Homo sapiens: one gene and its partner. The protein of the gene in region 1 purifies or fractionates together with the protein of each later gene. This does not show direct contact. Each region holds a gene or a part of one and is shown on either strand. Other genes may lie near its edges.

Region 1 (3,653 bases):
GCTGAGTTGGAATCAAAACAGTCCTGGTGAGTGACTGAGCTTCAGTATCCAAAGCAGCACCAACAAGTATAAGCCCAGCCTTACAGAACCATCTGGGCTTGGAGTGTACCCTCCTCTTTTGCCTCCTCAAATTCCTGATGTGTGCACGTGGCTCAGGCCCCAGCAGCCTAATATTGGGAGAAGAGCTAATCATTCTCACGTGTTTGGAGAGGCACAAGCAGGCAAAGATGAGTAAGAAAAGCGGTGCTGAGAACCACAGTGTAGGATGTTTAGACAAATGACCCATATAGACAGGAACCCAGGCGAGTCCCTCATGCTCAAATGGAAATATTTTTATCACCCAGCTCCTTATTTTGTAAACTACTACTAAGCCTTTTGTATGGCAGAAAAAGGGATAACTTTATTAGGACCAACCCCTCAGGTTCTTAAGATACTCTGGCTGCTTAGGACCTTATCAATCCATTTAAAGGTTTCTGAGGAAATCATATATGCCAACAATTAGTCTGTAATGCCCTTAGACCCAAACGCAGCTAGAAAGTCAAAGAAATAAGTGGTTACAGCTACCAGCTTGCCTTTTATATTGGAATTGCTTTGTAGGCTTTTTAGCAGTTGCTGGATTAAAAAAAAAAAATTACCTAACTAACTTATCTGGTAAAGTTGTCATGATTTACAATTATATCTAGCTGAAGTTCAGTAAAACTCAGCAGCTTGTCTTTGTCAAAATATGCTTGAGTTTCATTACAAACAGCCTAGAGATGTGTAGATTTTGTGAAAAAAAGGTGTGTCAAACATGGTGATGAAAGATTATTTCAATGTGCCTTTTAGGAGAAAAAAGTAATCACAATATTCAATGTAAGAAAATATTATTTTCTCTAATATTAAATTTAAATGTATTTTATTAATATCTCCCAGTTACATGAGGGTGAACAGAAAGGGAAAGTAGGAATAGGAAAAAGAAAAAGGCACAGCAAAAACCAAAGCTTCTAAAGTGTAAAATCAGGATGGTTACGTGTTTTGTAACCAGTTATCTCAAGTCAAAGTAAATGATCGGGGGTCAGAGGGTCAGCAGAGCCACTCTTGAGAACATGCAGGAGGCAGTCCCCTGGAATCTGTGTCTAGGGGCTCTCTCTCCATTTAACATGTGAAGCAAGGAGATCACAGGTTAAGTGGCTTGCCCAAAGTCACACAGCAAGTTGACAGAGAGGTGCTAGAAATAGCATCTAGAATGTTTCACTATGCCAGACAAGCTCCAGATTGCATGTCCAAAACAGGGAATTAAGACAAAGCAGTATATATTGAAACTGCAAGACAAGATCCCTTTTCAGTTTGAAGGAAAACAAGTTAGTTAATCACAGCACAAAGACAGAAGACAGCAGACTGATAAAAAGAACTCCTTACAAAGGGCTTAAACTGAAAGCAAATTCTATAACAACTGTGGTGATCTCCATTAACGCTAAACAGGGGCTGATTTTTTTTTTTTTTTTTTTTTTTTGGAGATGGAGTCTTGCTCTGTCGCCCACGCTGGAGTGCAGTGGCGCGATTTTGGCTCACTGCAAGCTCCGCCTCCCAGGTTCACACCATTCTCTTGACTCAGCCTCCTAAGTAGCTGGGACCACAGGTGCCCACCACCACACCCGGCTAATTTTTTGTATTTTTAGTAGAGACAGGGTTTCACTGTGTTAGCCACGATGGTCTCAATCTCCTGACCTCATGATCCGCCCACCTCGGCCTCCCAAAGTGTTGGGATTACAGGCGTGAGCTGCCGCCCCTGGCCGAACAGGGGCTGATTTTAAATGTCAATGGTGACTGGGAAGGAGGCCTTCTAGTAACTAGAAAGATGCTGGCTATGAGCAGAAACGTAATAATACCCTCTCTGAGAGACTGCTTAGAAGGCTGGGTAAGTTCCCAGGAAATCATGTAACAAACAAACGTAGAGGCCTGGCCAAAGGATGCTCCATTAGCATACCACATAAACAAACCCTAAATACTTGGTTTTAAGTTTTCTAATACAAGATTATCGGGGATCTAATTTGTGCCAAGTTATTTCACCGACTAATCACCTGTTAGCAGTGTGGGGTGACCAAACACAACTTGAACTCATCACAGGTAATGAACTGAATTTTGCAGGCCAGACCATTTCTTTTCTTTCCTCTTGCTCTTCTTTCTTCTTTTACCAAATTTTAGAATCCCTCAACAATACAGTTTTAACTTTTTATGTTTCTAAACTTGAAATATATGGAATCAGACTGTCAGGTGGAATTCTGCAATGTTCTCTCTTCCCTTCACAACATGTTCCTGAGTAGAACATGCAGCTTTAAGTCGTTTCTTTTCACAATGCATTTTTCTACAACAGATAGACTTTTAGGTTGTCCCCAGTTCTCTGCTATTGGCAACATTTTGAGAACATTCTCATACCTATCTTTTGGTTCACGTATTGTGCAAGAGTTTCTCTAGTCTAGGGTAAACACCTAGAAGTGCAACTGCTGTGGCATACTATATGTTCATATTTAATACCAAATTGTTTTCCGAAGTGGCTGTACCTATCCACATTCCCTCCAAGCAGTACTACGTATTCTGGTTAGCCTATAGTTTCTCTTTTATTTTTTGGAGATGGAGTTTCACTCTTGTGGCCCAGGCTGGGGTGCAATGGCGCCATCTCGGCACACCGCAACATCCACCTCCCGGGGTTCAAGTGATTCTCCTGCCTCAGCCTCCCAAGTAGCTGGGATTACAGGCATGCGCCACCATGCCTGGCTAATTTTTGTATTTTTAGTAGAGATGGGGTTTCTCTATGTTGGTCAGGCTGGTCTCGAATTCCCGACCTCAGGTGATCTGCCCACCTCAGCCTCCCAAAGTGCTGGGATTACAGGCGTGAGCCACTGCGCCCAGCGGTTAGCCTATAGTTTCTCTATCACACTCTGCTTAGTAGGAAGAGCCTCAGAAAAAAGCTGGTCCGATAAATGATTTTCTTGGTTTTGTTTTTAACTATCTAGGGGGCTTCTTTAGAGGAAAACACATAAGATACCCACTTACCGAGCAAAGGGACTTTATTTTGCAGCAACTCACAGTAGCTTGTGGTGAGAATTCCAATGGGATTACTAGGTACGAACCGTCCTTCTTTTACTAAACGTTCACACGTCCGCATTAAAGTCCCTGAGAATTGAGATGGATCAACTCCATAGTCTCTCCAGCCTCCTACACCATCTGCAACCCCTGAAGAAAAAACAAAAATTACAGTAAAAGAACAATCTTACCAACTTCTCAGGAATTCTTACCTCTGTTTTCTCCTAACAGTTAATTTCACTACATGCTACTACATACATTCACTCCAAAATTCAGAATAAAAAGCACTCACGTTTAATGTATTCTACACTAACACTCCTAAGCCACATTCACTACTTAGAATTTGGCCTTTCATATATTGATGAATAAACTTTTGAGCTACCACAGGGTGGCATTGCCTACCAGCCAAGAGTTCAATTTCAGCAGGATTAGCATCTGTGTATAGACATATTTGTGTCATTAATACTTTGTCTTTTATAAGAATGAAAATTGATTTTTAAGCAAAGTGCTGATGCTAGTGACGATACAATTCAGTCAGAGCTGGAGATCACAAAGAACATCAAAAGCGGCAACCTTTTAACTCCAAACAT
Region 2 (3,653 bases), on another chromosome or scaffold:
TAAATTGATAAATCCCTTACATGTCATTTTAAGGAGCTTAGACTGACTCCCATCATGTAGACATCAGAGATTTCTTTTTTTTTTTTTTTTTTTTTTTTTTTTTTTTTTGTGACAGAGTTTTGCTCTTGTTGCCGAGGCTGGAGTGCAATGGCGTGATCTCGGCTCACCACAACCTCCACCTCCCAGGTTCAAGCAATTCTCCTGCCTCAGCCTCCCGAGTAGCTGGGATTACAGCCATGCACCACCACGCCTGGCTAATTTTGTATTTTTAGTAGAGACGGGGTTTCTCCATGTTGTGGCTGGTCTCGAACTCCTGACCTCAGGTGATCCTCCCGCCTCAGCCACCCAAAGTTCTGAAATTACAGGCGTGAGCCACCGCGCCCAGCCCAGAGATTTCTAAACAGAGTTCTAACCAGATGCTTTTCCCTGTCAGTAGAATGAGAATGAATTGGAGGTGGGAGAGACTGGCATGAGGGACACCAGTCAGCCAGTGGAATTAGCTGGTAATGTTGATAGGAGAAGAAAAAGATTCAAAGTTAGGTAGTGGTAGCAAGAATTAGAGGGAAGGTCGGATTTATGATATGTCCAAGGTTGAATTCTAAGGTGAAATTTGGTGGCAGATTTCATGTGTAAATTGGGAAGGTAGATTGAGTTTTTTTAACATGGGTTTTCTAACATGTCAATAGAGTGACTCTGCAGGGGGGCCTGACGAGAGAACAGTGCATGGGGTGATTCAACAGCCAGTTGAGCCTTCATGCAGAGCATTTAACACTGTGACTCTGTAGACTCTGGTTGGCAGTAAAATTTCATTAAACCAATATTTAAACCCTTAGGTAATAATAAAAATTGAGGGAAAAGGATCCAGGTTTTGTATTTTTTATGAATTCAGTTATTGAATTAAACAGGACCTTGCCTCAAGAAATAATCTACCAACAATTAACTTGTTTTAAAGCAAAGTTAGGAAGTGAGCATGTTCAAATTATTAAATAAAAAAGTAAGCTGTGTATTTCATTCATAGAAATAGAGGCTGGCCTACTTCGGATGATTCTCAGCATGTGATTACAGATGTGGGCTTATACATCCTAGGGAGTTAAGGCGTACTCTGGCTTGGATAGAGTAGAGCTCTTTGAAACTCTTCTCTCACCCAGCTAGTTTATATAGACTAGAGAACTAGAATGTAGCAGCATACTCTGTCTTAGAAGCCCTTTTATATAGGAGCTGGTCTGGAAGGTTTGAAAACATAACAAATGTGTTGGTGTCTCCCAATGTATTGCTAGATTCTTACCCAAGAGCATTATCCTGGTTAGGGTTTGGTTTGGTTTTGTTTTGTTTTTTAATGTTTGCCACAAACTAACACTAGATGTTAGTTCTTTCATCAAGTGAGGAGAGTAGAAGAAAAGTCCAGAACTCTGAAACACCTTTTCAAAAGTTTTTCAAGCCATGATGTTTGCAAGTTAAATGCTCTGTTATGTAAGCAATATAATCAGTTTTTATTAATGTAACATTCCTTAGTGTTTTGGGGTATCACACAAAAAAGAATATCCATATCTGGAAGCAACAGCTTTTAAATAAGAGCATTGTGGTGGTGGTGGTGATAGTGGTTTTTTTTTTTTTTTTTGAGTTGGAGTCTCGCTCTGTTGCCCAGGTTGGAGTGCAGTGGCACGATCTCAGCTCGCTTCAACCTCTGCTCCCAGGTTCAAGCAATTCTTCTGCCTCAGCCTCCTGAGTAGCTGGGATTATAGGCACCTGCTACCATGCCTGGCTGATTTTTATTATTTTAGTAGAGACAGGTTTCACCATGTTGGCCAGGCTGGTCTTGAACTCTTAACCTCAGGTGAATCACCCACCTCGGCCTCCCAAAGTGCTGGAATTACAGGCATGAACCACCATGGCCAGCCAAATAAGAGCATTTTTAATGTAAAATTATGCATGAAATGTACATTCAATTTTGTCTTTGTTTACTAGGATCCATGTTCTCACAAGCTATGAAGAAATGGGTGCAAGGAAATACTGATGAGGTAAATCCTACCTTTAGGATAAAAAGATTTCTGTTTATAAGTGCCACCCTCATGTAAGTGAGGTTTAAAATTTTCCTTTTCTTTAGGTCCCATGTTTAAGCAGCATGGCACATTTATGTTCTCTTACCCAGAATGTACCAAGAAAGGGTGGTCCCTTCTTAACATCTAACAATTGCCTGGTAGTAGCAGTGAAGGTATCTTCAGTCAGAGGCTAGGACCACTGAAGGATATACATGCATTCAAGTTTCCATCAGCCAGCAGGCATCAGTAATCAGTGTGTAGATCAAAAGCTCAAATGTTTCCTTCCCCACTGGCAGTTTTACTTCAAGTAGTGGAGGCTTGCTTTTTTAATAGTTAATTAAGTACATTGAGAGATGGGAGGTGAAAAAAGGAAAATGTTTTATTTTGACCATCTAATATGAAAGTAGTTCGGTGTTAGGTATCCAGTAGTTGACACTGGAAGACAGGGAATGACATGTTAATATTCATAGCCAGAGGGTGGCCCAGGTTTTTTCGTACATGGGAATGAAATTCTTATCCAAATAAGTAGAAATTATGTGCGTAAGCCATTTGTTAAGAGCACTGAGTATGTGCATCTCGATCCATCTAATGAATAACCATTATCACCAGTTTAAATTATTTTCTTTAGGCCCAGGAAGAGCTAGCTTGGAAGATTGCTAAAATGATAGTCAGTGACATTATGCAGCAGGCTCAGTATGATCAACCGTTAGAGAAATCTACAAAGGTAAGGATGACTTCGTTTTGTGTAAACTAAAAAGTATTATTTTCCAGGTGTAAAAATAAAAAAGAACATAAGGGGTTTCTTTGCCTTTGAAGGATTAACTGCTGTGGGGATTACCTTCTTATCATAAGCAACTAGAAAATTGACAAACTAAATGAAACAACTGTTTGCATATATTGGACAATGGGCAATACAGGGAAACCATGGAAACCAAACAGAGCCCAGTAGTCTTGCTGAACGAAAGAGTTAAATATCAAAGTTCAGGCCAGGTGCAGTGGCTCACGCCTGTAATCCCAGCACTTTGGGAGGCCAAGGCGGGTGAATCACTTGAGGTCAGGAGTTCAAGACCAGCCTGGCCAACATGGTGAAACCCTGTCTTAGCCGGGTGTGGTGGCAGGCACCTGTAATCCCAACTATTTGGGAGGCTGAGGCAGGAGAATCGCTTGAACCAGGGAGGCGGAGGTTGCAGTGAGCCGAGATCACACCACTGCACTCCAGCCTGGGCGACGAGCGAAACCCCATTTCAAAAAAAAAATCAAAGTTCAGAGAGCTCAATTTGAGTAGAAGTTGTAGGATAAGGTAGCAGAAAAGAGGAAGCTGCCCAGAAAGAAAGCCGTAGAGATATTTAGAGAGATTCCCATGGATCCTTGGCCTAGGAGTGATCTGTATATGTGTGGGGTGAAAACGCATGTGTCCAGGTAGAGAACCCCCCAGAAATTAGTAGGCTGAATGATTGCTGGAACATAGGGCTAAGAAAAGTTCATGGCCAGAAGGATCTGGCCAGAGTAGAGAGACTTAGTAATACACAAGGCATTGGGTAGTGTCTTCACAGAGGTTATGCCTTACTACTGAAGATAAATTAGTCCTAGAGTACAAGCACCTGAACCAAGTTT

What was found.
Region 2: the proteins of PPTC7 (region 1) and AKAP10 purify together in Homo sapiens (co-immunoprecipitation; one large-scale study listed by IntAct). This does not show direct contact.

Annotation. Positions count from the first base shown.
Region 1 is NC_000012.12:110,548,756-110,552,408, forward strand, and holds part of PPTC7 (protein phosphatase PTC7 homolog), read right to left. Parts: intron 3,214-3,653; coding exon 3,034-3,213; intron 1-3,033. UniProt on the Homo sapiens protein: Protein phosphatase that plays an essential role in mitochondrial metabolism and biogenesis. Positively regulates biosynthesis of the ubiquinone, coenzyme Q. Dephosphorylates the ubiquinone biosynthesis protein COQ7 which is likely to lead to its activation.
Region 2 is NC_000017.11:19,908,291-19,911,943, reverse strand, and holds part of AKAP10 (A-kinase anchor protein 10, mitochondrial isoform 1 precursor), read left to right. Parts: intron 1-1,965; coding exon 1,966-2,018; intron 2,019-2,667; coding exon 2,668-2,763; intron 2,764-3,653. UniProt on the Homo sapiens protein: Differentially targeted protein that binds to type I and II regulatory subunits of protein kinase A and anchors them to the mitochondria or the plasma membrane.